Linked DNA regions of Homo sapiens. The protein of the gene in region 2 purifies or fractionates together with the protein of the main gene of each other region. This does not show direct contact. Each region holds a gene or a part of one and is shown on either strand. Other genes may lie near its edges. The genes, in order: PGM1, FDX1, GLOD4, CPOX, IDH2, NUDT9 and GCSH.

Region 1 (4,210 bases), on a different chromosome or scaffold from region 2:
TGTCCCACTCTGCCATCCCTCAGCTCCACTCCTTTTCTACACCCCTTTCTTCCTCAACCACAGGTCTCTCTTCTAATTATCTCAGGCATAATTTACAATCATCCAAACTGGACCCCAAGTTCTCACAAATGGCAAACAGGCACAAGGATGAGAAACCACTTGTGCTAGAAGTTGAGGAGGGGAGACTCCAGGCACTGAGGGTTGCTGTGGCCCATCCATCCATTCACTGCCTGCTCCCCAGAGGGAAGCCTCCAGTAAATCCCACGGCCCGGCCCTTCCAAACCCTATGAGATGCCTTGACAAGGACCAGGCCAAAAATCTGGGTCAATTGGAAAAAAGTAAACTGGGAGGTTGTAACAGAATCTTCATCCTGCTCTTTATTCTATTATGAATTGTGAGAGATGAGTTTACTCTGTGACAACAGGCAACAGAAGCAGAGGTGAGAGAACCCTGGTGCGTAAGTGTTCATGAGAAGCCAGGAGAAAGCCTGACCCAGCCTGCAGCCTAGGGTACCCGGCACACAGTAAGGGAAGCACTAACAATTCTGTCCACATCTAGAGATGCTCCAGGTCCTAAACTGTGGCGTCTTGCCAGGTACTGCTGTGTTAGGTGGGGTGCCACTCATGTGCTGCGAATGACGATGGTCAACGTTTCTAAGTCTGGGAATGCCTCATCTATTTTTCTCTCCTTTAGAAATTAGAACATACGAGAGAAACGTATAAGTATAATGCCACTTACATGCTGTCACTCTGCTATAATCTGCTGACAGAAAAGAGAGGAGTTGACATCTAAGTTCCCACAGTTCTCCCTCTTTCTTAGATTCTGGGGCTCCTTTCTGCATGTACAATGGACACATCATCTTGCATATCATTCCAGAGAGTGCAAAAATCCCTCTGGAGTCCAGGTTAAGAATCCCAGAATGAGGGTACTGGACAGTGCACAGAACAAGGGCATAAACCACTGTCCCAACGAGTGCATGTGAGAGTCACGTGGGACAGCAGAAAACCAGGTAAGAACAGCTACCCTAGAAAAACACAGCAGCAAAAGAAAAATAGCCAACAGGAACTTTTTAATTTTTCCCTTGAGATGTCAGAGATGAAGCTCTGAGGTCTCTCTCTCACTTACACACCGGTCTGTTTCTACCTGATTTCTTGAAATGCTTCCATCCACTGGGTCGCTGTATTCAAAGTTATCGGCCTTCTCCACAGTGTAAACTTTGTCATTTGCTGAGAACTGCTTCCCCACAAAGGAGCGATCAAACATCAGGGCCTCCAAGTCCTTCATCATTTTGTTTGCGCCCTCAGCTTCCACCTCCTCGTAATCATACCTGGAAGAAGTCACGAAGTTGAGGCCCACGGGCTGACTGCAGATCACACCAAGGCCTATCAGTCAGCACTTTCTTCATCATTTGTTTGGCCCTCCCGCAAAACTATCTAACTTCAGAAGAAGCTGGCAAAAAAAATACAGGCCTGTCAGTCACTGGGGATGGAACAGGCCAGGGATGAAAGGAAGGGTTTGGAGGATTTCAGGGAAGGGTTATGAGCTTCTGAATAAGCAGAAAACACCCATCTTGGCATTTCTACAGAATAAAGCTCTAAGATGTTTCAAAGGCTTTTGAAAGATGCTATCTAACATTTAGTCACCACATCCTGAGGAGGTAAAATGAAAAGCAATGTTATCTCTGGAGAACTCTCTTGAAAGGAGCACGTGACTCAGGCACTTCTCCTCCAAGCTCCCTGGGCTTCTCTGGGGTGAATGCTGGGCCTGCTCCCAGCCTGAGACCTGCCTGAGGCTGCTGAGATTTTGACTAAGCAGAGTTCCAGCTCCACAGGAGCTTCCTAAAGCAGGGCCAAGTTTTCACCGACCAGATGAAGACGCCAAACACTGACTCTTTACATCTAAAATGCCTTTTTTTTTTTCATTAATTTTAGTAAGTTTCAAGATACATGTGCAGAACGTGCAGGTTTGTTATATAGGTAAATGTGCCATGGTGATTTGCCGCACCTATCAACCCATCACCTAGGAATTAAGCCCCAAATGCATTAGCTGTTTATCCTGATGCTCTCCCAATTTTTTTTTTTAAATTTTGTTTTATTTTAAGTTCTGCCTCCCTCCTTTCAGTGGCAGTGGATTTTGGTCCAAGGTCCTTTGGGTTCACCCTGACAGAAGAGGCCCAGTGCGGATGAAAAAGGGCCAAGGAAAAAAGTGCATCACAAATGAAATTCTATAAAGATGAGTTTTCCTTCAAGAATTCTTTTTGACTTCTTTCTTATGATGTTAAAGACTTGTACAGGTGGCTTTTCTTGACCTAGTGGCATACACCCTCTTGAGAGAGTTATTTTTTAGAAGCTCAAGATAGCAGAGTCTATATTTATTTGTAATCGTGAAATAGATATCATATATGCAAGATGACACCTCTGAGACATGAGAAATGCTGAGGAATTAAGGCCAGCCTATTCTGGCTCCAGGATTCTATGAATCAAGGGCCAAACAGTCCCCTTAATCTTAAAGTCAGCTCTTTCCCCTAGTTAACATGATAAACAACAAGAAATTACAACCAGGTGTTTGTGCTTTACATTTTTGACCTCTGGGTACTCCAGAGAAATGTTTTCTAAACCCTAGGCACAGAGGGGTGGAATAGAAGAGTCTGGGTTTTGCAATCAGACAGATGAGCTATGAATCCAGCCTCTATTGGCTATTAATTGTGTGACTACAGGGCCAGCTGCCCTATCTCTCAGAATCTCAGCTACCTTATCAATAACTGTTTTGAGGCTAAAGTGAGACAATGCATGCAAAAGTGCCTAGCGCTTTTGTTCAGTAAGTGGAAGGTATAATGGAGTTTTAACTAATCATAAATGCAGGTACTAAGGATTTGATTTGTAATACTTGGTTAGCAATTATATTTGATAATTAATAAAATCATGTTAAAATAGTTTTTATATGGAGGATTGTGACTAATTCAAGGGTGTGACCCTTTCTCTGAACAACCCCTCCTAACCTTATTCTACTCTGGCTATTGTTCACCTGTTAACTCATTCATTTATCGGTTCAAAACGTATTTATGCAGTCTCTACTATGAGTTGGGTGCTTAGGGCACAAAAACAGACATGGCCTTGTTTTTATGATACTCTAGGTTCTAGACAGTTCATGACTGCTGTTCTGAATGACCAGGTTTTTCTGTCTGTTATAAAGTAGGGATTTTTTTGCCTTGGTTCCCAGGGCTACTGTGTGGTGTCAGGTAGTTATTACTTATTCCTTCCACAAAACAGTAACGTGAGAGAGAAAGAGATCAATGAATCCGTCCAAAGTTAATAAAATAATTCTGATTAAGGAGCTTAATTTACTTAGTTGAATTCTTTCTTGACTATCCAGAGATCACGGACTATAAAATCTGGGATATATTTTTTAAATTCTCTAGTCTAACTCACCCATTTTATAGAACAGGCAACTGAGGTCCAGAGAAATTACACCTATTCATTTCTTATACATAAACAATTCATCTAATATCCTTTTTACCATATTTTCTCTCTATAATTGGAATACTGAGGTCCAGAAAAATTCTTGTTAGATTTTTACACTAACTGGGGGAAAGGCAAATTGGAATTAGTGAAAAGTACTACTGTCAAAAATTTTTTAATGCTTTTTAAAAATAGAAGTACGCATGATAAGGAATAATTACTAAGTATTCTAAGTATTTTGTTCACTGCTGAATTCCAAGTACCCGATGGAAATCGGGTATACAGTAAATATCTGTTGAATAAATTAAAAAAATTATTGACAAGTATATAGCCCTTGGGGACCTATTTCACAAGGCAGAAAAGTCGATGTGGACTAAGCATAACTGTTTCTATAATTTATGAAAAAAAGTTTCTAGGCTTTCAGTGCCCCAAAGTTAACAAAACATTTTCAGACTCATTATTCATTTAATCCTCTCAACAGCTGGACTGTTATTCCCATTTCTACAGATGACAAAACTGAGTACAGAGAAAAGCTAAATGGCTCCCCAATCTAGTAAGGGGAAGAAATAAAATTCTAATCCATTTCTCTGAATCCAAATCCAATGTTATGATCATGTCCACCCAATGGACACATTTAAAATGCTTATAAAGCATTTATTCTTTTGATTATGTTAGCTAAACTTTTAAAGCCTCACTCTTTATGGCTGACATAAAAATTGACTTCATTTCATCCCTGACCAGATTATTTTTAA
Region 2 (2,928 bases):
AAACACATCCAATCATTTTTCCTCTAGTTTAGTCAAAACAGAGATCAAACTTCTTTGATAGCATTATAATGTCTACGTCCAGACTTAGTCTTCCGAATCAAAATTTTGAAATATTTATTTATAAGGTCAATAACTATCTTTGAAGTTAAGCAGTTTACTGAGCAATTAAATATTTTTGTCCATACACATTCAGATTTAACTACTACTATAAATAAAATAGTCATAATTTCTCCAGTTTCAGTCTGAACACATAGCTTATAGGAATAAGACACAGGTTCTAGCACAGATTTTCTAATTAGTGGTATGGCCCTAAACAAGCCAGGTTAGATCTCTGCCTTCACCCACATCAAACAGGAATAATAATATATTTCCTTAACCTATCTTCTAGGTAAACAGATGAGATTATATGAAAACATTTTGCTAAAGTCGCTAAACAAACATAAGAAAAAAATATGTAAGGTTTTTCTATCACATTAACTATTTTTTAATATTTGATTGACATTTTTGTAATATAACCAAAATAAAAATTGCATACTTTCAAGAATGACAAAATTCAGTAGTTATGCAAGGTGAATTAAAATAGTAAAGCTAGTCATAATATGAAGTCCACTCATCCATGTTCTCATTTAATCACTTTAAGAAATAATAATTATAAAAATAGGTAAAATTCCATGAAAATATTCCTATTTGTTCTAGTTCAGGAGGTCTTGCCCACATCAATGGATTGTCTGGCATCAGCCACTGTTTCAGGCACTCGAACAGTCATATTGTCCATAGATTTTGTCAAACAGATTTGGCAGCCCAACCGTGATCTGTATGGAAAAGGGGGAAGGTATGGTTTAGTATTACGTATATATATTCACAAGGCAATGCAGTTGTTTAAGATAGTCTTTATATTTTCTTACCCAAAGCAGTCAGGGAACTTATTAACCTTTTAAATTTCCTTTATGTCAAAACAGATATAACCAACCCTATCAACTAGAGAATAACAAAAGGTAAATATGAATACAATAAACTTGGTGTACCAAAGCTTCATTTTAGCCTTTGGTTCCTATTATCTATTAACTGTTTCACCAGACCACTACTTTTTGGTCAAAGAGCTGACAAGCAAGGAAACAATCAGAAGGCACAATGGTGGAGAACTGAGGTTATTAGCAAGGCCAAGAAAATGATTAATCAATTCCTAGATAATTAAAACCACACAGACTATAAAAGAAAGCTACACTTTTTAAAGCCTTTAAAAGAAGAAATCTGGAATAAATACATAGACTTAAGTCATCAATTATAAGAGCATATTTTTTCTCAAATTTTTACCATCTCTGGAAATCAAGAAGCATCTTAAAATCAATGGAATCTTACAATCACTGCTACACTGTCAGGTAATGGTCATGTCACAGCTACAGATTTGGTGACAATATTCATACAGGGGTCTCTTCAACTTAGTTATGCAAAGTATGTAAGTACACATGTCGAATTTACCTACTTTTCAAAATAGTCTAAAAAGATTACAAAATGAAAATGAAGAAGAATACAGAAAGAAAGCAGGGTGTAAATTTGGAATTAATAAATATTTGTCATTTTAAGAATGACTAATTTCCTTTTTTTTTTGCAGAATTACTACTAATTTTATTTTGTGTTTATTTTCCTTCTTTTTTTTTTTTTTTTTTTTAAGACAGGGTCTGGCTCTGTCACCCAGGCTGGAGTGCACTGGCATGATTTCAGCTCACTGTTAACCTCCACCTCCCAGGCCCTGGTGATCCTCCCACCTCAGCCTCCTAAGTAGCGGGGACTACAGGCATGCACCACCATGCTTGAATAATTTTTGTATTTTTTGTAGAGACAAGGTTTCACCATGTTGCTTAGGCTGGTCTCAACCTCCTGGGCTCAAGTGATCTATCCGCCTCAGCCTCCCAAAGTGTTGGGATAACAGGTATGAGCCACCGCACTCAGCCATTTTCTTTTCTTAGCAGTGATATATAATTCAAATCTATGTCTAGATAAGTCTAAATAACTCTTTCAATATTCAGAAAATATGTTAAGTGATAAGACTGTGCCATATTTGAATTAGCAGTGCTTTTATCTTCCTTAGTGGCATATAAAAAGAAATGTTAATCTTACAATTGACATGTCTTCAATTTGATGAAATCTGATATTCAGGTCTTGGTTTTATTAATGTACTCATGAAGCATTTATTGAGCACCTAAAGGCACAACACTAAATGTCAATGAGGAAGAGCAAATCAACTCCACACTTTCTTACTGAACACTTCTTATTTTCTGGGCATTGGGATGCACTAAAGAGACAGCATCAGAGTTACAGCCAAAGAGACCAGCAGTGCAGAATCCAGCACTTAATATACCATGTTCACAGGCAACTTGCTTAACCTCACCAAATGGTAGTTTCCTAACCTAATCTTCAAGATGAGCAGGAGAATTCCTCACAGGACTGCTGTGAGGATTGGTTGCTAATGCCAGCATTAATGAGTAAACTTTCAATCAAAGGGATGAGATGAGACACATTCAGATAGTTAACATGTGAGACTGTGGCAAATGCCACCGAGGGAGAAAGCCAAATGGCTCTGAGAGGTCTAAGAAGAAAGCCCTTACTTCTGGCCACAGAAGGTGTTGTCCACAATGGGCTTTGGAGGATAGGTAGGATTTACTATTTAGTACAAGATAAAGGAGAAAAGTATGTGAGGCAAAGGCAACACAATGCAAAGAAGCTCAAGTCACATTTAAAGCAAGATGGGTGTTTTAGCTTGGTTGCTGCACAGCGTAAACAAGGACAAGGGGAATGATGGGCCAGAAAAGCGGCCAGAGCCACAGGCAGCTGTGAATATCAGTTAAGGGGCCTGTGTTTCACTGGTGAGCAAGGAGGAACCACCAGGAAGTTTTGGAGTAAAGGAGTGTGCTTAACCATGAGAAATAC
Region 3 (4,210 bases), on a different chromosome or scaffold from region 2:
CATTCTAATTCCTTGTTTTGTGGATTATTGCTTTGTGCCTTTTGCCTATTTTTCTAGCATGTTCATTCTTTTCCTATTGATATTTACAGGTGATTTACATATTAAGGACTTTTTGTCCAATATATTGCAGTTGTTCCCCCTACTGTGTTGTATACTCTAGTTTTGATTGTAATTCCTTTTCTTGGTTGTTGTCTAGGAGTTTTCCATTTTGTGTAATTTATGTAGCAGAAGTTTTTTCTTCATAGTTTTTCTATCTTTGGTGTCAGGTTTAAAGAAAAATCTTCCTCTACTCCAAAATTGTATAAATAATCATCTGTATCTAGTATTTTCATGGTTTCATTCTCTAAACTTATTTTTTTAACCCATCAGGAATGTATTTTGTCATTTATTTCGAAGATGTAAGTTTTTCTTACCAAATGATTAGCCAGTCTTCTTAGCGCCGTCCATTGAATAATGAGGCTTTTCATACTGTCTTTGTTTTTTTTTTTTTTTTTTTTTTCGAGATAGGGTCTCACTGTCACCCAGGCTGGAGTGCAGTAGTGCAGTCTTGGCTCACTGCAGCCTCAACCTCCCGGGCTCAAGCGATCCTCCTGCTTCCATCTCTGAAGTGGCTGGGAATACACACATGAGCCACCACGCCTGTCTAATCTTTTTTTTTTTTTTTTTTTTTTTTGAGACAGAGTTTTGCTCTTGTCTCCCAGGCTAGAGTGCAACGGCGCCATCTCGGCTCACTGCAACCTCCGCCTCCCAGGTTCAAGCAATTCTCCTGTCTCAGCCTCCCGAGTAGCTGGGATTACAGGCGTGCGCCACCACGCCCAGCTAATTTTTTTTATTTTTTATTTTTAGTAGAGACAGGGTTTTGCCATGTTGGCCAGGCTGGTCTCAAACTCCTGACCTCAGGTAATCCACTTGCCTTGGCCTCCCAAAGTGCTGGGATTACAGGCATCAGCCACCACACCCAGCCAATTTTTTTAAAGTTTTCATACAGGCAAGGTCTCAGTGTTTTACCTGCATTGGTCTTGAATTCCTAGGCTCACGCAATCCTCCTACCTCAGTCTCCCAAAGTGCTGGCATTACAGGCATGGGCCGCTGCACCCAGCTTCATACTGGCTTAAAATCCCTTTCTTATCATAAACTGAATTTGTAAGTATACATGCGCATGTTTTGGTCTTTCTATTTTATTCTATTAAATTGATCTGTCTATTCCTGCTTTATTACCCAACAGATCCTGTATTAAAAGTAACTCTAGCAGTGTCTGATCTTCAAAAGTCCTTGAACTACTGGTGTAATCTACTGGGAATGAAAATTTATGAAAAAGATGAAGAAAAGCAAAGGGCTTTGCTGGGCTATGCTGATAACCAGGTGAGCAATCTTGGAGAAGAATAACCTGTTACTTTGAATTTGGCTTGTAAACGAAGCTTATAAATGGCTTATAACCTTTATAAATGAAGTTAACATGAAGGTTGTTCCCATAGTTTCTTCACAGTGATTCAATATTTATATAGATAAACAGAAGAAAATAAGTGATAACCTTACCACCCAGATATTACCTTGTTTATATTTGGGGATATATCTCTTCAGAAGTGGAATTGCTTAATCCAAGAGATTGAATGGATTTAATGCAAGATCTTTTTCATCTTCTTTTTCTAATAACCCAGCGTTTGAGCACGATTTAGTCCTTGCACTTTGACCCTGCAATTCTACTCCTAGGAATTATTTTACAGATGTGCTCAACATACATCGGCACAAAGAAGTGTGTGCAAGGTTATCTGCTGCAGCATTGTCTGTAATCACAATGTGTAAGAATTTCAGTGTCCTATAGATTAGAGACATATTTCAGTAATTTACGGCTCATTCATGGAATGGATTACTATGTCGCTAGCAAAAAGATTGAGGCAAATCTTTATGTATTGACATGGTAACATTAAGTGGAGAAAAACAAGGAACAGAATAATTTGTAAATTATACCACCATTTGTGTAAAAAAAAAAACATAGATGCGTGCAGTGCTTCTAGAAGGATACACAGGAAAGTGTGGACTAGTTGTCTCTGGGGTGAGAGTAGGATAGAGACTCAGTTTTTACTTTATTCCTTTAGTATATAATATTTGAATTTTTCTACCACATACGTGTAATGAATGTATAACCTGTTCCAAAAAATAACCCCCTTTCCTATTTCAGTGTAAGCTGGAGCTACAGGGCGTCAAGGGTGGGGTGGACCATGCAGCAGCTTTTGGAAGAATTGCCTTCTCTTGCCCCCAGAAAGAGGTAACGCTTGATACCAGATCGTTTGAGCTTTCTGACTAGCTAGTTCAACCCAGCTAAGAACTTTGTCCTTCCCTTCTTGAGGTCCTTTTTGATTGTGGCTTTAGTATCAAGTTCAGCAGTTGTTTCAAGAGCAGCTGAGATAATAAATTCAAACAAATGGCGCCTTGGTTCTTTATGGTATCTGATACTCCTCTAGGACTGACGAGGGCCGTGTCCTGAGTAGTGTGTGACCCCTGGCTCACGTTGCCTCTGTTTTCCTCAAGTTGCCAGACTTAGAAGACTTGATGAAAAGGGAGAACCAGAAGATTCTGACTCCCCTGGTGAGCCTGGACACCCCAGGGAAAGCAACAGTACAGGTGGTCATTCTGGCCGACCCTGTAAGTATTTCTCAGGCAGGGGGCAGGCTGGACCAGGGGTTTCTTCAAGGATGTCTTTGGCAGGTGTCTTTTCTCTTTATTGGTGTAGGACGGACATGAAATTTGCTTTGTCGGGGATGAAGCATTTCGAGAACTTTCTAAGATGGATCCAGAGGGAAGCAAATTGTTGGATGATGTGAGTCCCATTTCTACATTTATGTCACCATGGGCCTGAGAGGGATGGCATTAAGTGTGTGTGGGAGGAGACTAAGCAACAGGGTCCAGGTTCTTAATGTCAGAACCACGTCCTTTCGCTGTTGGGTTGACCTCAGCCAAGGACCGATGTCTTCACTGCCACCTGTGTAGACTGCTTGTCTAGACTTAGCATTTGTGCCTTACCACAACCTCAGGCTGCCCTGGAACCACTGCTGGTGGATCTGTGCTTATTCTGCTCTCCACATGGAGATGCCTCTATCCGACCCCCTCAGCTCTCCCCATGGAGATGCCTCCATCCGACCCCCTCAGCTCTCCCCATGGAGATGCCTCCATCCGACCCCCTCAGCTCTCTGCATGGAGATGCCTCCATCTGACCCCCTCAGCTCTCCCCATGGAGATGCCTCTATCCGTTCCCCTCAGCTCTCGCCAGGGAGATGCCTCCATCCGACCCCCTCAGCTCTCCCCATGGAGATGCCTCCATCCGTTCCCCTCAGCTCTCCGCATGGAGATGCCTCCATCCCATCCCCTCAGCTCTTGCCATGGAGATGCCTCCATCCGTTCCCCTCAGCTCTCCCCATGGAGATGCCTCCATCCCATCCCCTCAGCTCTCCCCGTGGAGATGCCTCCATCTGACCCCCTCAGCTCTCCCCATGGAGATGCCTCCATCCGTTCCCCTCAGCTCTCCCCAGGGAGATGCCTCCATCTGATCCCCTCAGCTCTGCAGCTCCTTTGATCATCTCTTCTCCATTCTGCAGCATCAGTCTCTTCTTTCCAGTGAGTTATTCTCGCCAGCGTGCAAACAGGCGCTGAAAGCTCCCATCCTTTAAAAACCTTTTACTGACCCCATATCTCCTCTCCAGATTTCTCCTTCTAAAAATCTGAGTGCGCACTGTTTCTCTCTCTCACATCCTCTCCAGATTTCTTCTTCTAAAAATCTGAGTGCGCGCTGTTTCTCTCTCTCACATCCTCTCCAGATTTCTTCTAAAAATCTGAGTGCGCGCTGTTTCTCTCTCTCACGTCCTCTCCAGATTTCTTCTTCTAAAAATCTGAGTGCGCGCTGTTTCTCTCTCTCACATCCTCTCCAGATTTCTTCTAAAAATCTGAGTGCGCGCTGTTTCTCTCTCTCACGTCCTCTCCAGATTTCTTCCTCTAAAAATCTGAGTGCGCGCTGTTTCTCCCTCTCACGTCCTCTCCAGATTTCTTCTTCTAAAAATCTGAGTGCGCGCTGTTTCTCTCTCTCACGTCCTCTCCAGACTTCTTCTTCTAAAAATCTGAGTGCGCGCTGTTTCTCTCTCTCACGTCCTCTCCAGATTTCTTCTAAAAATCTGAGTGCGCGCTGTTTCTCTCTCTCACGTCCTCTCCAGATTTCTTC
Region 4 (4,669 bases), on a different chromosome or scaffold from region 2:
ATATGATTTCCAAGTCAATTTTCAAAAGCTGCTTTTTAATTTGTCACTTAAAAACATAATTTTAAAAAAGTATTTGTCAACGTGCGGCATATGAACCCGAATGGCTTTTTTCAGAAGCAATATTTATTTTATAAATAAAACTTGTGGGCAAAATAAGGTTTGCAGGGACTATTAGAGACTATCAAGACTGTCTGATTTACCATCTTTAGTCTTCAGAACTTTTCCTCTGCTTCTCATTTGTTTTGCAGCTTCCTCTGAAAGATTTCCATGAACAACAGAAATGCTCACCCCAGCCTTTTCGAAAACACACCCATCTTGAAGTACACAGCTGATGCCGCCACCTCCTGTGTATAGAAATGTAAAAAAGGAGAGAATGTAAGAGTATGTGCAAAACTGAAAGCAACACTTGCATGAAGATGGTTATTTTCCCGTTTCCCAAATCTTTTATATCAGTGTATTTATCATTTTATGTACAATACAATTAGATAACTAGCTTAGCTTTATGACATATGCTATTAATATTGGGCAAATACTAGACCTTCTCATATCACTAAACTGAATATTTCTTCAACATTCTCCTGCCATCATCTAAAATAAATCACTGGAATATTCTCCCTTCAGATTCTACTGTTCAGAATGGCATCTATCAGTTATGATATATGAGAGAAAGCTAAGGTTAAAAATAGGAATGGGTAGACTTGAAGGGTGTTCTATTATTACTGAATTTAAGAGATCTATATTGTTTCAAAAATTTCTTTCTCAGTGGGCTGCTTGCCTTTTAATTTACAAGCAATTAAGAAACAGTAGGTAATCAAATTCTGAAGGGATTCAGAACCTTAGAGTGAGTGAGACGCACATTAGTATTCACGTGTATCAGCCTTACTAATTTTTTTTCTTAAGGTATTAGGGTCACTGCAAGGGCAATGTTTCATGAAAGTTCATGTTTGGCTTGTTTTATTTCTAAGAACATTTAGAGCTGGATGGGACATAAGATGATCCAGTACAACCCTCATATATTCCAAATGAGAAAACTGAGGACCAGAGGGGCAAAACATCTTATCCAAGATCAAACTGCTGACAAGTGGCTGCAACAATTTGTCTAAATGCTGTCTATGCTTCAGACAATATTCTAAGCACTTCACATATATTCCATCCATATATATATATATATATGTATATGGATATATATATATATATATGTAGTATGAGGATTAAAAGAGATGAAATACATATATATTTCATAGATGGGAAAACAGCCATAAAAAAGTAACTTCTGAGGATCACACAGCTGGTCTAGTACTTGAGGTTGTGTCCTGGTTCAGTGGTCTTTGCTTGAAAACATAAGATGGAAAACTAGACTGAACTTCATTTAATATAGATGTGTCAGTATCACAGCTCAAAATCTGCCGGTGAGAAGCTGCTGTTGTATTTCCAGCTAGGAAAAGTCAGGAATCTTTCAAGTTTCCACTCAAGATGTGGGGTTTCACTGTATGGGCAACAACATGGTCATGAATGTACGCCTCTACGAGAACTGGGTTTTGATGCTCAAGTATTTTGATATTGGAAGAGAAGATTTTCCTAGCAGGAAATCTGATGCGTGCATTTGGTAGTGCTACTGAGAAACGAATCAAATATATCTTGTGTAACAGTAAAAAGAAGTGGGAAGATTCTGACACAATGACATCCTGGCTGGAGGAGTTTAGCCGACACTTAGCGCACAGGAGATGAGTTCTTTCCATCTCCTAAAGAGGAAAAAGGGCAAATTCACCCAGAGAAGGAGAGAAAATGTGTTCCATAATCTATTGAAATTTATGTTCAGTAACGAACTTTGGACATCTAAGCTTGTTAGCTGCAAATACCCCTTAAGAGTTCTACAAAAAAATGCTGCTACGGAATTGCAAAGATTTTGAAATGCAGTACTACAGTGACAGCTGATCCGGGTCCATACCTGCAAGCAGAGGGCTAGTGACCCTTTCGTGTCCATCTTTTTATCAGCGGCCTCTAACCAAGCGGCCTCTCTGTGGGTACCCCCTACCTACCCCATCCCATATTGTGAACTATTATATTTTCTGTCTGCAACCTGGAACCTGACCCTTTTTCCCTGTCTCCAACTCCCGCCAGGGGCCGGCCTCCTTACCTTCCTTCCTCTCCCACCGGTCCACAGAAAAGTTGGCGCCCCCGTCTACCTGTGCCAGAGCCTGGCACACCTGGGCCTGGGTCTCCAGAATCAGCAGCTCCATCTTGGTCTTCATGTCGCCCGGCCTCCTTCGCAGCTCGCCCAGGTCGGTCACAGGCGGGGCCATGAAGCTGCTGCAGCGGTGGGCCAGCTCATCCTCCTCCTCCTCCGGCCTCCCCAGCGAAGTGGCCCGCGTCCCCGAGGTCTTAGGCAACATCTCCGCCCGCTGCACATGCCCGAAGGCGGCGGTGGCCAGCCCCACCAACCCCGCCAGCGCCGCGGCCAGCCCTGTCCCCACCCAGGGGCCGCCTCTCGACGTCGAGCCGTGCCCCAGCCCGCGGCTCTGCTCCGTGCCAGCCGGGCCAGGGGGCCGGCAGACGCGTCCGGCTGCGCTGCGCTGGGACCAGGCTCGGAGCCCTCCGCCGCCGCACTGGGACCAGGCGCGGGGCCCTCCGCAGCCGCCCCGCGCCACGAGCCAGCAGGGGCCCGAGCTCAGCCTGCCCAGCTGCAAGGCCATGTTCCCGCACTATCACCTGGAGCAGTGCCTGCGTCCCAGAGCCCTGCGTTTGAGCCCCCCACCCAGACCCCCGGAGTATTGAGCCGGCGAGCTGCACAGGCGGAAAGAACCTTTCGAGAAGAGCCGCTGCAGCGTCGGGCTCCGGAGGCGGGGGCGGGAACTGGGGCGCGCTGGGAGCTGTAGTCCGGATCCTATCGCCGCCTGCGGCGTCCCTGCGCGGGGCGGGAGATAAGAATCCGACGCGCCCAGAAGGGCTGGTCCGAAGGGAAGAGAGTGGGGCGGGGACGGTGCTGTGGAAGGGACGGGAGAGATAAAAGAGGCTTTCTTGTCACGTACAACCTCGGGTCGGCTGTTTACTCAGCCAAGGAGAGAAGATAGAGTAGGGCTGGGAGGCTGAGGGCGGACTGGGGCGGAAATGTGGCAGAGATCCCAGTCCCGCTTACATTTTCAAACAGGATTTGCGAATACAGAGCCTGGCTCAGGATCTGTATAGACCCGCCCTTCGCCCTGGGTCCTGGTCCTCTAGAGTTTTTAGAGGGGATGGGCAGGCTGGGAAACTCTTTGCTGAAGGATGGTTTTCTAAAGAGAGTGGGAGAAGCTAGTAATGGACTCGGAAGAGAGTCGAGGAGAAGACTTTCTGTGATCGAGTCCACATCACAGTTCTGTCCTTAAGATTTCCCCAGGCTGGGGCCGGGCGCGGTGGCTCAAGCCTGTAATGCTAGCATTTTGGAAAGCCGAGGCGGTTGGATCACATGAGGTCAGGAGTTCGAGACCAGCCAACATGGTGAAACCCTGTCTCTACTAAAACTACAAAAAAATAGCCGGGCGTGGCGGCGTGCACCTGTAGGCTCAGCTACTCGGGAGGCTGAGGCAGGAGAATCGCTTGAACCCGGGAGGCAGAGGTTGTAGTGAGCCGAGATCGCACCACTGCACTCCAGCCTGGGTGACAGAGTGAGACTCTGTCTCAGAAAAAAAAAAAAAAAAAAAAGGTTTCCCCAGGCCTTGCTTCTATAGTGCCTACTTGATTATTTTAGAAAAAGGAAAAGCAACGTGACTGTTTTGGTTAACCAGTAGAAAATTCCTGACTTGGTGTGTTTTGGTGATTAACAAATAAGAATTTAAAAAATAGTTATTCTACTACTGTAGGGTGCTCCCAAATATTGCTCACGTTTAATACTTACAACAACTGCTACAAACTAGGCAAGGCAAATATCCACACTTCCTCCTACTCTGTCTCCCTTCCCCCACCCTTTAAAGAAATGAGGAAAGAAGCTAATAGATTTGACAGGCAGGTCTTTGTCTCCCCTGTAACCATACCACAGCTCCATGGTTCCTGGACGTAAAAGTGTGAGAACTATTGTCATGGGCTAATTTGTCCCATAAGTCTCCGGGATGATTTTAATTTCTAGTAGTAGATAATAATTTAAGCCACTGGTAGCTTTTCCCACAAGTGTTTTCTTTGTGGCAGGATGCACTGATGGAACTTCAATGGCTTTTGAGTCAGATCAATTGGCATCTTGTCCACACACAACTGTACCTGGCAGCTCTCACTGGGACATGATGTTAGCAAGGTGGGTGTGCTTGCCGAAGCCTCACCACTGAGAATCTGTGAAAAGTAAAGGCTTGGATTGAGAAGTGACTAAGCGACTTTTAGGGAAGAAAAACAATTAGCTTTTGGTCATAGTGCAACCTGCCAGGAGGCCAAGTTAGAAGTGGAGGAAGGGAAATAAGAATTGTCATTGTAGGAAGGGTTGATGGCCTCTACTGGATGCCTGTGATGGGGTTGGGCTGGGCCTGGTGATGATAAATGAACCTCATCAAATGAAAAGGAACCTCCCTGGTACGTTTATTTGTAAGAAACCCCCTCATTATTGCTCTAATTCTGCTAAAAATACCCATAAAGTTAGTAAAGCCCATAAAGTTAGTTAAAGCTAAGTAAGAACAGACTGTTTTGAACATTTGCCCGGTCACAAAGG
Region 5 (4,210 bases), on a different chromosome or scaffold from region 2:
AGTTCAAGGTCAAGATCAAAGACCTGATGTGTCAAACCCTCAGAGACCACAGGACCTGATTATTTACTCACCGGCAGGTGCTAACTAAGCACTTATCCAGTACCCCACTGGGATACTGAAATGCCTAAAACACAACAGTGCCTGCCCGGAGGCAGTGAATGTGGAAGGGGAAACCTACAGGTAACAGAGAGAGAGCAAGCAGGGCTGTCACCAAAGTCAGGAGTGCCCAGGCCTCCCTGGAAGCAAACATCCCAGGGGAACTGAGAACAGCAACATGAGCCAAGGCCAGCAGAGACTTGTTCTGCTTGTTCCAGGTACTGGTTTTTTAAAAAAATCTTAATTGGTGACCAAGTTTTAAAAATCAGTAAATCTCAACAATAAAACAAATAACTCAACGTTAAAATGGACAGAAGACTGGCTGGGCACCGTGGCTCATGCCTGTAATCCCAGCACTTTGGAAGGCTGAAGAGGGCAGATCACTTGAGGTCAGGAGTTCGAGACCAGCCTGGCCACAATGGTGAAACTCTGTGTCTACTAAAAATAGAAAAAAAATTAGCCTGGTGTGGTGACACACACCTGTAGTCCCAGCTATTTGGGAGGCTGAGGCAGGAGAATTGCTTGAACCCAGGAGGTGGAGGTTGCAGTGAGCAGAGATCATGCCACTGCACTCCAGCCTGGGTAACAGGAAGACTCCATCTCAAAATAAATAAATAAATATAATGGACAAAAGACTTAAATAGACATTTCAAGTCCAAAGATGATATACAAATGGCCAACAAGCACATGAAAAGATGCTCAACATCACTAATCATCAGGGAAATGCAAATCAAAACCATAATGAGATATCACCCCACTATCCCCTCACAACCACTAAGAGAGCTACTATCAGGAAAAGAAAAACAAAACAGAAAATAAAGTGCTAGCAAGGATGTGGAGAAATTGGAACTCTTGTGCCCTGTTGGTGGGAATGTGAAATGGTGCAGCTGCTGTGGAAAACAGTATGGGTGTTCCTTAGCTAAAAGGAAAAGAATTACTGCCGGGCACGGTGGCTCGCACCTGTAATCCCAGCACTGTGGAAGGCTGAGGCGGGTGGATCACGAGGTCAGAAGATCGAGACCATCCTGGCTAACACAGTGAAACCCTGACTCTACTAAAAATACAAAAAATTAGCCAGGCGTGGTGGCAGGCGCCTGTAGTCCCAGCTACTGGGGAGGCTGAGGCAGGAGAATGGCATGAACCCGGGAGGCGGAGCTTGCAGTGAGCTGAGATCGCGCCACTGCACTCCAGCATGGGCGAAAGAGAGCAAGACTCCGTCTCGAAAAAAAAAAAGAAAAGAAAAGGACAAGAATTACTATATGATCCAGCAATTCTGCTTCTGTATATACATCCAAAAATATCGAAAGCGGGGTCTGAAAGAGATATATGTATGCCCACATTCATAGCAGCAATGTTCACAACAGCAAAAGATAGAAGCAACCCACGTGTCCATCACAGATGAATGGATAAAGACAATGTGATACAGTCCCCCCTTATCAAAGGTTTTATTTCCATGACGTCAGTTACCTGTGGTGTCAGTTACCCACAGTCAACCATAGTCTGAAAATAGGTGAGTACAGTACAGTAAGATATTTTAAGAGATCACATTCATGTAACTTTCATTACAGTATATTGTTATAATTGTTCTATTTTATTACTAGTTATTATTGCTAATCTCTTACTGTTCCTAATTCATAAATTAAACTTTATCATAGATCTGTATGTATAGGAAAAAAACATAGTATCTACAGGCTTTGCAGTTTCAGGTATCCACTGGGGATCTTGAAATGCATCCTCCAAGGATAAGGGGGACTACTGTTATCTACATACAATGGAATATGATTCAGCCTTGAAAAGAAGGGAAATTCTGACACCTGCTACAAAGTGGATGAACCTGGGGGGCATTATGCTAACTAAGTGAAATAAACCAGTCACAAAAGACAAATACTATATGCTTCTACTTACATGAGGTACCTAGAATAGTCAAATTCATAGAAACAGAAAGTAAAAAGGTGGCTGCCAGGGACTGGGGACGGGAAGTGGGGAGGTATTGTTTCATGGGTAGAGAGTTTCGGTTTTGCAAGGTGACAAAGTTCTGGTGATGGATGGTGGTAATGTCTGCACAACAGTGCGAATGTACTTAACAATACTGTACACTGAACAATGACTAAGATGGTAAGTTTTATACGTTTTTTACCAAAATAATAAAAATTTAAACCAGTCAAAAAAAATCAGGAGATTTTATATAAAAATCTAGAAATGCAGCAGGCACTCACTCATGGCAAGGATGGGCTGGGCTGAAGGCGGCCTCTCCCTTCACTCCATGACAGCCAAGTGCCCTCCAGTGTGGCCCAGGGCACTGGAGTTTGAGACCCCTGTCTGCTGTTCAGCCTGTATGGTGGAGATACAGCCATGGTCTGCCCTTCTCTGAGAGATAAGTGGTGACAAGCTACCTGAAATACACAGAGCAGCAGCTAGGCCTCCCTGAAAACCTCCGAAGTGACAGCCACCACGAATCTTCAGCTGATGCATTGCACAAACACTGTCCTCTTGGCGAGAGTGCAGGATGGAATTACACCAGTCACCAGAGGCACGTTAGGCTGACTCTCCTCCCTGTCTGGGGCTCCTAGCACCCAATACCAAGTAAGGATTTCAAAACACATCCCTGGCTTCTTGCTGCTCCCAGCAGGAGGCTAGAGGTCCAGCCGCAGGCAGCCAGCCCCAGGCATAACTGCTCCCTCCACATTCCTACCCATGCTCTCAGCAGAAAGGCTGCTCAGTCAGCATGTCCCAGCAAAAGATCAGAGAGTGGGGAAAGGTTCCAATTCCTGGGGGCTCAAGAAGGCAGGACAGCAACTTTGTATATTTTATGTATGTATGTATGTATGTATGCATGCATGTATGTATGTATGTATGTATGTATGTATTGAGACAGAGTCTCACTCTGTCGCCTACACTGGAGGGCAGTGGCGTGATCTCGGCTCACTGCAAGCTCCACCTCCTGGGTTCAGGCAATTCTCCTGCCTCAGCCCCTGAGTAGCTGGGACTACAGGCGCCTGCCACCACACCCAGCTAATTTTTGTATTTTTAGTAGAGACCGGGTTTCACCATGGTGGCCAGGCAGGTCTCGAACTCCTGGCCCCAACTGATCCGCCTGCTTCGGCCTCCCAAAGTCCTGGGAGCCACCGCACGCGGCCAGAACAGCCATTTTGGAACAAACTCTAGTAGACTCCTTGGTGTCATCCTTCATTCCTTCCCTTCTCTCACATCCAAACCACCAAAACCAGAAGCCACCCTCAGACAAGCCCACCCTTGCCATAAGTGAGTGCCTGCTGCGTATCTAGATTTTTATGTAAAATCGCCTGAATTGGAACCTTTCCCCACTACTGGCTCCTCCTTCAAAATATATCCAGAATCCAACCACTTCTTCACCATCCCCAGCGCCACCACCCAGGTCCAAGCCATCATCCTCTCTTGCCAGGTCCCTGAAGCTAGAATGCTCCCGATAAGATGGAAATCAGGTAACGATACTCCTCTCAAAACCCTGCAAAGTAAAAGCGAAAGCTCTCAAAAATGGCCTGTGAGCCCTCTACAGACCCCACTGCCGAACCTCATCCTGTCACTCCACCTGGTGCCTGCTGAGCCAGCCTTCGCACCATCCTCTCTGCTCTTCCATCATGCCCTTGGCACCTGCGAGTCCCTCTTCCCCCAATACCGAAAATGGCCTGCTTCCTCCCCTCCTCAGCGATTCCTTCAGTGAGGACTTTTCTGGCTGCCCTATACAAACTTTTGTGCACACACCTTTCTTGCCTGTTTCTCCTTAGCTCTTCTCTTTTTGGGGGGAGAAGGGGGAGGCAGGGTCTTGCTTTGTCACCCAGGCTAGAGTGCAGTGGCACAATTGTACCTCACTGCAGCCTTGACCTCCTGGGCTCAAATGATCCTCCTGAGTAGCTAAGACCACAGACATGCACCATCGTGCCTGGCTAATTTTATTTTTTATTTTTGTAGAGATGGGGTCTCACTATATTGCCCAGGCTGGTCTGGAGCTCCCAGCCTCAAGCAATCCTCCCACCTCAGCCCCCCAAAATTCTGGGATTACAGGTGTAAGCCACAGTGCCTGGCCTTCCTTAGCTCTTGTACCCATATATCATACTAGTCAACATCTATCTTGCTT
Region 6 (3,901 bases), on a different chromosome or scaffold from region 2:
CAACCTCCGCGTCCTGAGTACAAGCGATTCTCCTGCCTCAGCCCCCCGAGTACCTGGGATTACAGGCATCTGCCACCACGCCCAGCTAATTTTTTTGTATTCTTAGTAGAGACCACACTGCCATACCAAAAACTGGAGAGACAGGCAAATACAGAGAATCACAACTGACCAGGGAGAGAAGCCTACCGCTGGAGTCAGCACCTGGTAGGAACACTTAAAGGGTAACTAACTGCTGAAAGCTGACCTTTGGACTAGCTTGAAAGATAAAATCTCCTAGGGGGTCAGCCATACCAGTATGAAGAGGGGGCCTACATTTTAGTGAGCTTTACCTCCAAGAAAGCCACCAGGTGAAGACTGGAGAAAAATCCTCTCTCCTTTCTAACATGGAGAGGGGAAAGGTAACCAATTTCAAATACACCCAGATCACTCTGCCCTCAAGGAAAACTATTTTACCAAGCCCTAAGCAACCTGAGGGAAAGGAAATACCCAACTCCAGCCCCCGCTGGATTTCCTGTCTTTCCTAAGGATTGGGGAGGAAGGAGGGAAGCTGAGAATAACATATGAAGGGTCACAGCCCAGGGCCACAGGCTCACTAAAAGACTGACATCTAACCATATATTCTCCTATGATTCCCCTTCCTCTAGAATTTACCACCATATCTATCAATAGGACTCCTGTTTAATAAAAGGGGAAGACAGCTGAAAGAAGGGCATGCTTCAGACCTCATTTAATAAGTCTCCAGGGAAACCCAAAACTAGAGGAAATTTTAGCCTCTGACACATACAATGACAGCAAACAAAAAACACAGCCTAACTCCTAGCCAGATAAACATAAAACCTCACGCTAAAGAACTATTTGCCTTAGTTCCCTTACAAGTTATATCATGGTCAATTTTCAAAAAAGCACTACAGCCAGGCGCAGTGGCTCATGACTGTAATCCCAGCACTTTGGGAGGCCAAGGTGGGTGGATTACCTGAAGTAAGGAGTTTGAGACCAGCCTGGCCAACATGGTGAAACCCCATCTCTACTAAAAATACAAAAATTAGCCAGGCATGGTGGTGCATGCCTGTAGTACCAGCTACTTGAGAGTCTGAGGCAGGAGAATCGCCTGAACCCGAGAGGCAGAGGTTGCAGTGAGCCATTATCATGCCACTGCACTCCAGCGTGGGTGACAGAGCAAGACTCCATCTCGGGGTTAAAAAAAAAAAAAAAGAAAAAAGAAAAAAAAGCACTAAAAGCACGCTAAAAGGCAAAAAACATAGCCTAAAGAAACAAAGCAAATATTAAAACCGAACTCAAATATGGCAGAGATTTTGGAATTATCAAAACAAAATTTTTTAAGTTTAAAGAGAGAAAAAGATAGGGTAAAAACAGTGAACAATCCATAAACTCTATAATCAACTTCTGGAGGATCAGTCATTGTTTTTAACTCCAAAACTTTAAAGTAGTTAACAAATTTATCAGTACTAAAGTTGTACAGACCTGCTTCTAATTTACATCTGCATATTTCTTCTAAGTTTTCATACTAGGATAAACTCTTCTAATACACCTTAGTGGAAATACAGGAATAGAAAATGGTCCCAGGAGTTTCCTCCAAGTTCAACAAGCAAAAGCACAGGATATGGAAATGACAGATCTAGTTCTAGCCCATTTTGTAAGTGAAAAAACTGAGTCCAAGAGGACAAATGATTTGTACAAGGTTACACAGCTCAGAAAGAACTATGAGTGGAACATTCATTTCATTTCTCTAGCATGGTGCCCCCACTTTTATGCTACAAATAAAAACAAATCAAATTTAGCAATAAAATATGTTTCAAGGGAGCCATTCAATGTGTACATTAAGACCAAATTAATTTTTAAGACAGCAGATTTTTCCTTTCTCCTTCTGTAATAACAGGTTTGACCCTCCTCATAAAATTTTAAATTCCATACACCAGAAACAGCATTCATTTAAAATTTTTTCAGTACTTGGAATTTTTTGTTATTGCTTTGTGTATTAACAATCCAAGATTATTATAAAAATATTTGAAATAGTAAGATATAAATCCCATTTCCTTTATCATTGCCATACTTCCTACCCAAATCCCAGTTGCTTTTGTTTTGCAAAAAAAGGGAACTATACTCAATAAATAATCTGACATCTTTAAAGCATATCATTTTAGCCCATAATTTCATCCTTAATTTCAAATGTTACCAATGGATTAAAGAAAATTTAGTCACTGGTGATAAAAGTTTTGAAGATTTCTTCTATGTATTCCTTTAATACCAACAATTTTGCTTTCATATAACTACAGTCCTACAATCAACAGTTAATTGGTTTAAGATGCTAAATAGTCCAGATTTAATCATGCCTTAGTGGGCTAATGGCTTAAATTGATCCTTTAATCCCAGCCAGTTTAATAAATATAAAGTTACCTGTTTCGTCATGGTAGTTCACAGCTTCTGTCTCCATCCATGCATTATCAGTGTTTCGAGGATCATCAACATATCCCTTATATATCTATTTTCAAAAGAAGACAAATTTTTTAAAAGTCCAAGGTGTAGTGAGTACAGCAGAGCATGTTACCTTCACTAGCATCAGAAATGTAAATATCCTGTTGCCCAACAACATGAACATACTTAATGCTACTGAGCTGTACCTTCAACAGTTTAGATGGTAAATTTGACATTATGTGTTTCTATCAAAATTTTTTTAAAGAAATGTAAATAGCCGGGCGCGGTGGCTCACGCCTGTAATCGCAGCACTTTGGGAGGCTGAGGCGGGTGGATCACCTGAGGTCAGGAGTTCGAGACCAGCCTGACCAACAAGGTGAAACCCTGTCTCTACTAAAAATACAAAAAAAATTAGCCATGCATGGTGGTAGGTGCCTGTAGTCCCGGCTACTCGGGAGGCTAAGACAGGAGAAATTACTTGAACCCAGGAGGTGGAGGTAGCAGTGAGCCAAGATCGCGCCACTGCACTCCAGCCTGGGCAACACAGCGAGACTCTGTCTCAAAAAAAAAAAAAAAGAAAGAAAGAAAGAAAAAAAGAAAGAAATGTAAATATCATAAAACTTTTAATGTAGTACTTCATGTGCTTGTTTCAAATTTCCCAAAGAACAATATTCTCTTTTGAGGCAGCTTTAAAAATCATGAAACCCTCAGGCCAGGCGTGGTGGCTCATGCCTGTAATACCAGCACTTTGGGAGGCGGAGGTGGGCGGATCATGAGGTCAAGAGATCAAGACCATCCTGGCCAACATGGTGAAACCTCGTCTCTACTAAAAACACAAAAATTAGCTGGGCATGGTGGAGAACACCTGTAGTCCCAGCTACTCAGGAGGCTGAGGCAGGAGAATCGCATGAACCCGTGAGGCAGAGGTTGCAGTGAGCCGAGATCGCATCACTGCACTCCAGCCTGGTGACAGAGCCAGACACTGTCTCAAAACAAATAAATAAATCATGAAACCCTCAACACTTCAAACTCTAATTTCAGAATCTGAGAACAGTCAAATTTGGGCAATATGATTTTTTAAGAGTCCATCACTTAAGTATTTTTCTGTGATTATAGTTTCTGAAATACAAAGGTAGATTCTTCTAGTTAAACAAAGGAGATCTATAAATAAAACTAAAGATTACTACTTAAGCTATTAATATATGAAGATATTTGGATCTATTCATCTAGCACAAACGTAACTCAAAAAAATCTGGACAACATAAATAACTAAATCCCAATTCTGAAAAGAAAACAAGCAATCCAAATAAAAACTGACCAAAAAAAGGCCGGGTGCGGTGGCTCACGCCTGTAATCCCAGGACTTTGGGAGGCCGAGGCAGGCGGATCACCTGAGGTCAAGAGTTCAAGACCTGCCTGGCCAACATGGTGAAACCCCGTCACTACTAAAAATACAAAAATTAGTCAGG
Region 7 (4,959 bases), on a different chromosome or scaffold from region 2:
GGCTAAACTTTGGATTTGTAGTAGAGACGGGGGTTTCTCCATGTTGGCCAGGTTGGTCTCGAACTCCTGACCTCAAGTGATTCACCTGCCTCACTTAGTCACAGGATGAGCTAGGGTTGGCACAAGATACAGGTCACAAAGTCCCTGCTGATAAAATAGGATGCGGTAAAGGAGCTGGCCAAAACTCACCAAAACCAAGATGGCGACCTCTGGTAGGTCTCACTGCTCATTATACGCTAATTATAATGCATTAGCATGTTAAAAAAAAAACAACTCCCACCAGCGTCATGACAGTTCACAAATGCAATGGCAACGTCCAGAGAAGTTACCCTATAGTCCAAAAAGCGGAGGAACCGTTAGTTCTAGGAAATCCCTGCCCCTTTTCTGGAGAACTCTTGAATGATCCACCCCTTGTTTAGCATACAATCAAGAAATAACTATAAGTACACTTAGTCGAGAAGCCATACTGCTGCTCTGTCTACGAAGAAGCCATTCTTTTTTTTCTTTACTTCTCTATTAAACGTGCTTTCACTTTATAGACTCTCCCCAAATTCTTTCTTGCATGAGGTCCAAAAACCCTCTCTTGGGGTCTGGATTGGGAGCCCTTTCTGTAACAGTACTAAAGGTGTGTGTGTAGCTTAAGGTGTTTTTCAGAACAGTATTTCTTTGCTGACTCATGGCCACTCCATAAAATCTGTGTTAAAGGTGAGGTTTTTCCCAGAACCTAATTTTTTTCTGACTTCTTGGATTGGGATGATGACTTCGGCTTTTCTCGGAAGGCCTTGGTCACACCGCTGGCCGATGAAACAAGGAATTGTGCACACTGGGTCTCAGCTCTCTGCGTTTTGAATATTTCTGCATTAGTGACTGGCTTGGGTCCAGTCTCCACCAAGAAGCCACTTATGACCCTTGGACAAGTCTTTATTCCTTTTTAAGTAAGCTTCTGGATTCTGCCGGTCCTGTTTGGGGTCCCTGGGGCTCTTTGAGACAGGAACGTTACAGAGCAGTTGAAGGAGAATAGAAACTTCCAGGCTGCAGTTCTGTCTAACAAAAGGAAACTGTTGAAATAGCTGCACAAGCTATGGGCTAAGACCCTGAAAAACCAGGGTGTGGGTCAACCTGGCTAAAACCAACTGGACCCAACGTGGTGTGGCTTTGACCTAGGCTTCACCTAGGACTCATTAACATACTAAGTCACACACCCACCGGCACCACAACAATTCCGGGAACACCCATATTTGGTGTAAAAATGGGTGGCACCACAGTTCTGACAAGTCTCCACCTTATTCCAGAAACCTTTGTGTATATTCCATTTCTCAAAGAAACCCATAAAGATGGAAACCCCAAGCCCCATTGTGTGGCCCTCTTTTGAGTCCGCCCTTTCTTCAGTGTGTACTTTGCAGTAAACCTCTGTACTTTCACGACTTTCCGACTTGTTCTTGAATTCCTTCGTGAGGTGGTGAAACCACCTTTGAAAACTTATGACAGAGGCAGTAAAAGAGATACACATGTGGAAAGGAACCCAGTCTGGGGCTAGGCCCCGCCCCCCTCCTGCGGGCAGCCCAATCATACCCAGGCCCGCCGCGCTAGTCTCCGCCTCTCGGTGCTGCCTCTTCCGGGCCTCAGGTTCTTCCCCATGCCCACGCCCCTCTTTCGCGTCGCCGTATCCGAGGTCGCGCCAGGCCCTGGAGTCCCCAGTCTCCGCGTGCTGGCCAATCAGACCCTGCCTCGCCCCCTCGCCTGGGAGTCTCCGCCCTCCACGCTCTGCCCAGTCAGGCTCTGTCCCGCCCCCGCGGCACCGCCTCCGCGCCTCCATCCAGCCGGCTCCCTCCGGCCGCGAACTGCCCCTCCCCGCCCCGCCTCCCGGCGCGGGTGGCCGAGGCGTAGCGCTGCGACCCCCGCACCCCTGCGAACATGGCGCTGCGAGTGGTGCGGAGCGTGCGGGCCCTGCTCTGCACCCTGCGCGCGGTCCCGTCACCCGCCGCGCCCTGCCCGCCGAGGCCCTGGCAGCTGGGGGTGGGCGCCGTCCGTACGCTGCGCACTGGACCCGCTCTGCTCTCGGGTAAGCGCGGCGGGCACGTGGGCGGCTGCTCCCTCCCCGCCTGGGCTGCTTGTCCCGGGCCCAGCGGGACACGGAGGACGCCGGGGCACCGCTCCTGAGCCACCGGGGCGGAGCGAGCGCGGACCCTGCCCCCTTCTTATTTCTGTTGGGATCCCTGGCTCTGCGGCCGCTTCTCCCCCTTAAGTAGCGGGAGGACCCGCGAGTAGCCTTTGCCCTAGGGATTGCATGCAGCCGGGAGGGGAGGCCTGCGGGACACCGAGGCGGGGGTGGCCCGGCGGGTCCGGCGGGCAGGTCGGCCGCTTGCTGCAGAAGCCAGGCACGTGTCGCTTAAGCGTCTCGGTGGCCTTAAGTTTATCTCCCATCTGCGTGCATCGTTGAGACCCCAAATGGGGAGGCCTTTAGTTTACTAAATGGACCGTTACTGAGAACTCCGAAGTAAAATTAAAACAGAAGCGCTTATTAAAATTAAAGCACCAGGCAGGGCGCGTTGGCTCATGCCGGAGGGCGGATCACGAGGTCAGGAGATCGAGACTATCCTGGCTAACACGGTGAAATCCCATCTCTACTAAAAGTACAAAAAATTAGCCAGGCGTGGCGGCATGCGCATGTAATCCCAGCTACTCGGGAGGCTGAGGCAGGAGAATCGCTTGAACCTGGGAGGCAGAGGTTGCAGTGAGCCGAGATCGCGCCACTGCACTCCAGCCTGGGCGACAGAGCAAAACTCCACCTCAAAAAAAAAAAAAAAAAAAAAAATTAAAGCGCCAGATCTAGATTTTTTTACTAGATAAAACAATCATAACTTTGAAGATTCAGCTATTTCCCCAAAACAAGTAAGATAAAGTCTTCTGGACTCAACAGAAGTTCTGCTAAAGTTTGTATTGGATCATTCATGTGTGTGCTTGCTGAAATGAGCCCTAACTCAAACGGACTTGAAATAACTGGGAAACCTGCCCATGAATGTTTCGGCCATTTGTGCTACTTCAGCACAATTATTGCAGGGGAAAAACAATTTTCTTTTTTTTTTTTTTTCTTTTTATTGAGACGGAGCCTCGCTCTGTCGCCCAGGCTGGAGTGCAGCGGCGTGATCTCGGCTCACTGCAAGCGCCACCTCCCAGATTCAAGCGATTCTCTTGCCTCAGCCTCCCGAGTAGCTGGGTTCACTGGCGCCCGTCACCACCTCCAGCTGAGTTTTGTATTTTTAGTAGAGACAGGGTTTCGCCACGTTAGGCTGGTCTCAAACTCCTGACCTCAAGTGATCCACCCGCCTCAGCCTCCCAAAGTGCTGAGATTACAGTCGTGCGTCACCGCGCCAGGCCAACAATTTTCTTTACGCCCAAATGTTTGATACACTGACTGCTCCTCTGCTTCGATTGCGTAGATCAGTGATGGCTCTTGTCTCATTAGCTCATTGTTTTAGAAACCTGTTTGGAGCTGGAATGGTTGATAAATTTATTCCAAAATTTGTAGCATAAAGATTTACTTATGCTGTCTTGCTAATAGTCTGTCCGCTCTGTTTCTGATAGGGATCCCTACATCACTAATTTGAATACAAAGGTAAAGCATTTCTCAGATAAGAATTTAGTTTCAAGTCTGTGGTTTTCGTTCCTTTTTTTTTTCTTCTTTTTTGAGATGGAGTCTCGCTCTGTCGCCCAGGCTGGCATCCAGTGGCAGGATCTTGGCTCACTGCAACCTTCGCTTCCCGGGTTCAAACACTTCTCCTGCCTCAGCCTGTGGAGTAGCTGGACGACAAGAGCACACCTCCATCTCAAAAAAAAAAGAGAAGAAAAATTGACTAATACTAATATAAAATATTTTATCTGACTAGTGACATTGAAAAAGGAAAATGCAAAATTTTCATAAATTGCTCACAACTCCTAATTTTCCGAGGCCAAAAACCACCTTTTTCAAGGCCCAGTTAGAAAGTAATTATTGTCCAGGCACGGTGGCTCATGCCTTTAATCCCAGCACTTTGGGAGGCTGAGGCGGGCGGATCACCTGAGGTCAGGAGTTCAAGACCAGCCTGGCCAACATGGTGAAACCCTGTCTCTACCAAAAATACAAAAAATTAGTCGGGCGTGGTGGCACGTGCTTGTAATCCCAGCTCCTTGGGAGGATGAGGCCGAATCACTTGAACCCGGGAGGCAGAGGTTGCAGCGAGCCTAGATTGCACCACTACACTCCAGCTTGGGCGACAGAGTGAGACTCTGTCTCAAAAAAAGAAAGTAATTATTTACCTAATCTATCCACTTCTTCCTGTCGGGCCAAGGGTTAAAGGAGAATTGTACTAATCATTGCCTTTAGCCTAAACAGCATGCTTAGTAAAATAAAGACTTAGGTCTTTGAATCACTGCAACCTCTGCCTCCCAGGTTCAAGTGATTCTCCTGCCTCAGCCTCCAGGGTAGCTGGGATTATAGGTGCCCGCCACCATACCCGGCCAATTTTTTGTATTTTAGTAGAGACGGGGTTTCACCATGTTGGCCAGGGTGGTCTTGAACTCCTGATCTCAGGTGATCTGCCTGCCTCGGCCTCCCAAAGTGCTGGGATTACAGGCGAGAGCCACTGCTGTTGGCCAGGACTGAGGGGTAACATTACCTGTAATGTTGCCGTCTCCCTCTAAACTTGGGGCCAACAATTTTCTTTACACCCAAATGTTTGAGACACTAACTGCTCCTTGTTAAGGAGAATTGTACTAATTACAATTAGTAATTGCTCGGTTGCTAAAATGAGGGTCACAGCAGCCTTACTCCTAAAATTATCTTCACAGGTAGGCAAGATGGCAAGGTCAAAGAAGGTAGTCTCAGGTGGTGTTTATAGTTGTCCAGTGCTTACTTTGAAAAGGTGTTTTAGCTTCAAACTGCTCATAATTGGCATATAACCGGCGATTTGTAGCAGAGTG

The links.
Region 1: the proteins of FDX1 (region 2) and PGM1 fractionate together in Homo sapiens (co-fractionation; one large-scale study listed by BioGRID). This does not show direct contact.
Region 3: the proteins of FDX1 (region 2) and GLOD4 fractionate together in Homo sapiens (co-fractionation; one large-scale study listed by BioGRID). This does not show direct contact.
Region 4: the proteins of FDX1 (region 2) and CPOX fractionate together in Homo sapiens (co-fractionation; one large-scale study listed by BioGRID). This does not show direct contact.
Region 5: the proteins of FDX1 (region 2) and IDH2 fractionate together in Homo sapiens (co-fractionation; one large-scale study listed by BioGRID). This does not show direct contact.
Region 6: the proteins of FDX1 (region 2) and NUDT9 fractionate together in Homo sapiens (co-fractionation; one large-scale study listed by BioGRID). This does not show direct contact.
Region 7: the proteins of FDX1 (region 2) and GCSH fractionate together in Homo sapiens (co-fractionation; one large-scale study listed by BioGRID). This does not show direct contact.

Annotation. Positions count from the first base shown.
Region 1 is NC_000001.11:63,648,786-63,652,995, reverse strand, and holds part of PGM1 (phosphoglucomutase-1), read right to left. Parts: intron 1,328-4,210; coding exon 1,144-1,327; intron 1-1,143. UniProt on the Homo sapiens protein: Catalyzes the reversible isomerization of alpha-D-glucose 1-phosphate to alpha-D-glucose 6-phosphate. The mechanism proceeds via the intermediate compound alpha-D-glucose 1,6-bisphosphate.
Region 2 is NC_000011.10:110,460,238-110,463,165, reverse strand, and holds part of FDX1 (adrenodoxin, mitochondrial precursor), read right to left. Parts: intron 813-2,928; coding exon 698-812; 3' UTR 1-697.
Region 3 is NC_000017.11:768,477-772,686, reverse strand, and holds part of GLOD4 (glyoxalase domain-containing protein 4), read left to right. Parts: intron 1-1,225; coding exon 1,226-1,362; intron 1,363-2,179; coding exon 2,180-2,266; intron 2,267-2,529; coding exon 2,530-2,643; intron 2,644-2,731; coding exon 2,732-2,818; intron 2,819-4,210.
Region 4 is NC_000003.12:98,590,812-98,595,480, forward strand, and holds the start of CPOX (oxygen-dependent coproporphyrinogen-III oxidase, mitochondrial precursor), read right to left. Parts: upstream 2,801-4,669; 5' UTR 2,694-2,800; coding exon 2,138-2,693; intron 345-2,137; coding exon 201-344; intron 1-200. UniProt on the Homo sapiens protein: Catalyzes the aerobic oxidative decarboxylation of propionate groups of rings A and B of coproporphyrinogen-III to yield the vinyl groups in protoporphyrinogen-IX and participates to the sixth step in the heme biosynthetic pathway.
Region 5 is NC_000015.10:90,095,599-90,099,808, forward strand, and holds part of IDH2 (isocitrate dehydrogenase [NADP], mitochondrial isoform 1 precursor), read right to left. Parts: intron 1-4,210. UniProt on the Homo sapiens protein: Plays a role in intermediary metabolism and energy production. It may tightly associate or interact with the pyruvate dehydrogenase complex.
Region 6 is NC_000004.12:87,452,970-87,456,870, reverse strand, and holds part of NUDT9 (ADP-ribose pyrophosphatase, mitochondrial isoform a precursor), read right to left. Parts: intron 2,501-3,901; coding exon 2,416-2,500; intron 1-2,415.
Region 7 is NC_000016.10:81,093,234-81,098,192, reverse strand, and holds the start of GCSH (glycine cleavage system H protein, mitochondrial precursor), read left to right. Parts: upstream 1-1,797; 5' UTR 1,798-1,914; coding exon 1,915-2,062; intron 2,063-4,603; exon of another isoform or gene 4,604-4,959. UniProt on the Homo sapiens protein: The glycine cleavage system catalyzes the degradation of glycine. The H protein (GCSH) shuttles the methylamine group of glycine from the P protein (GLDC) to the T protein (GCST).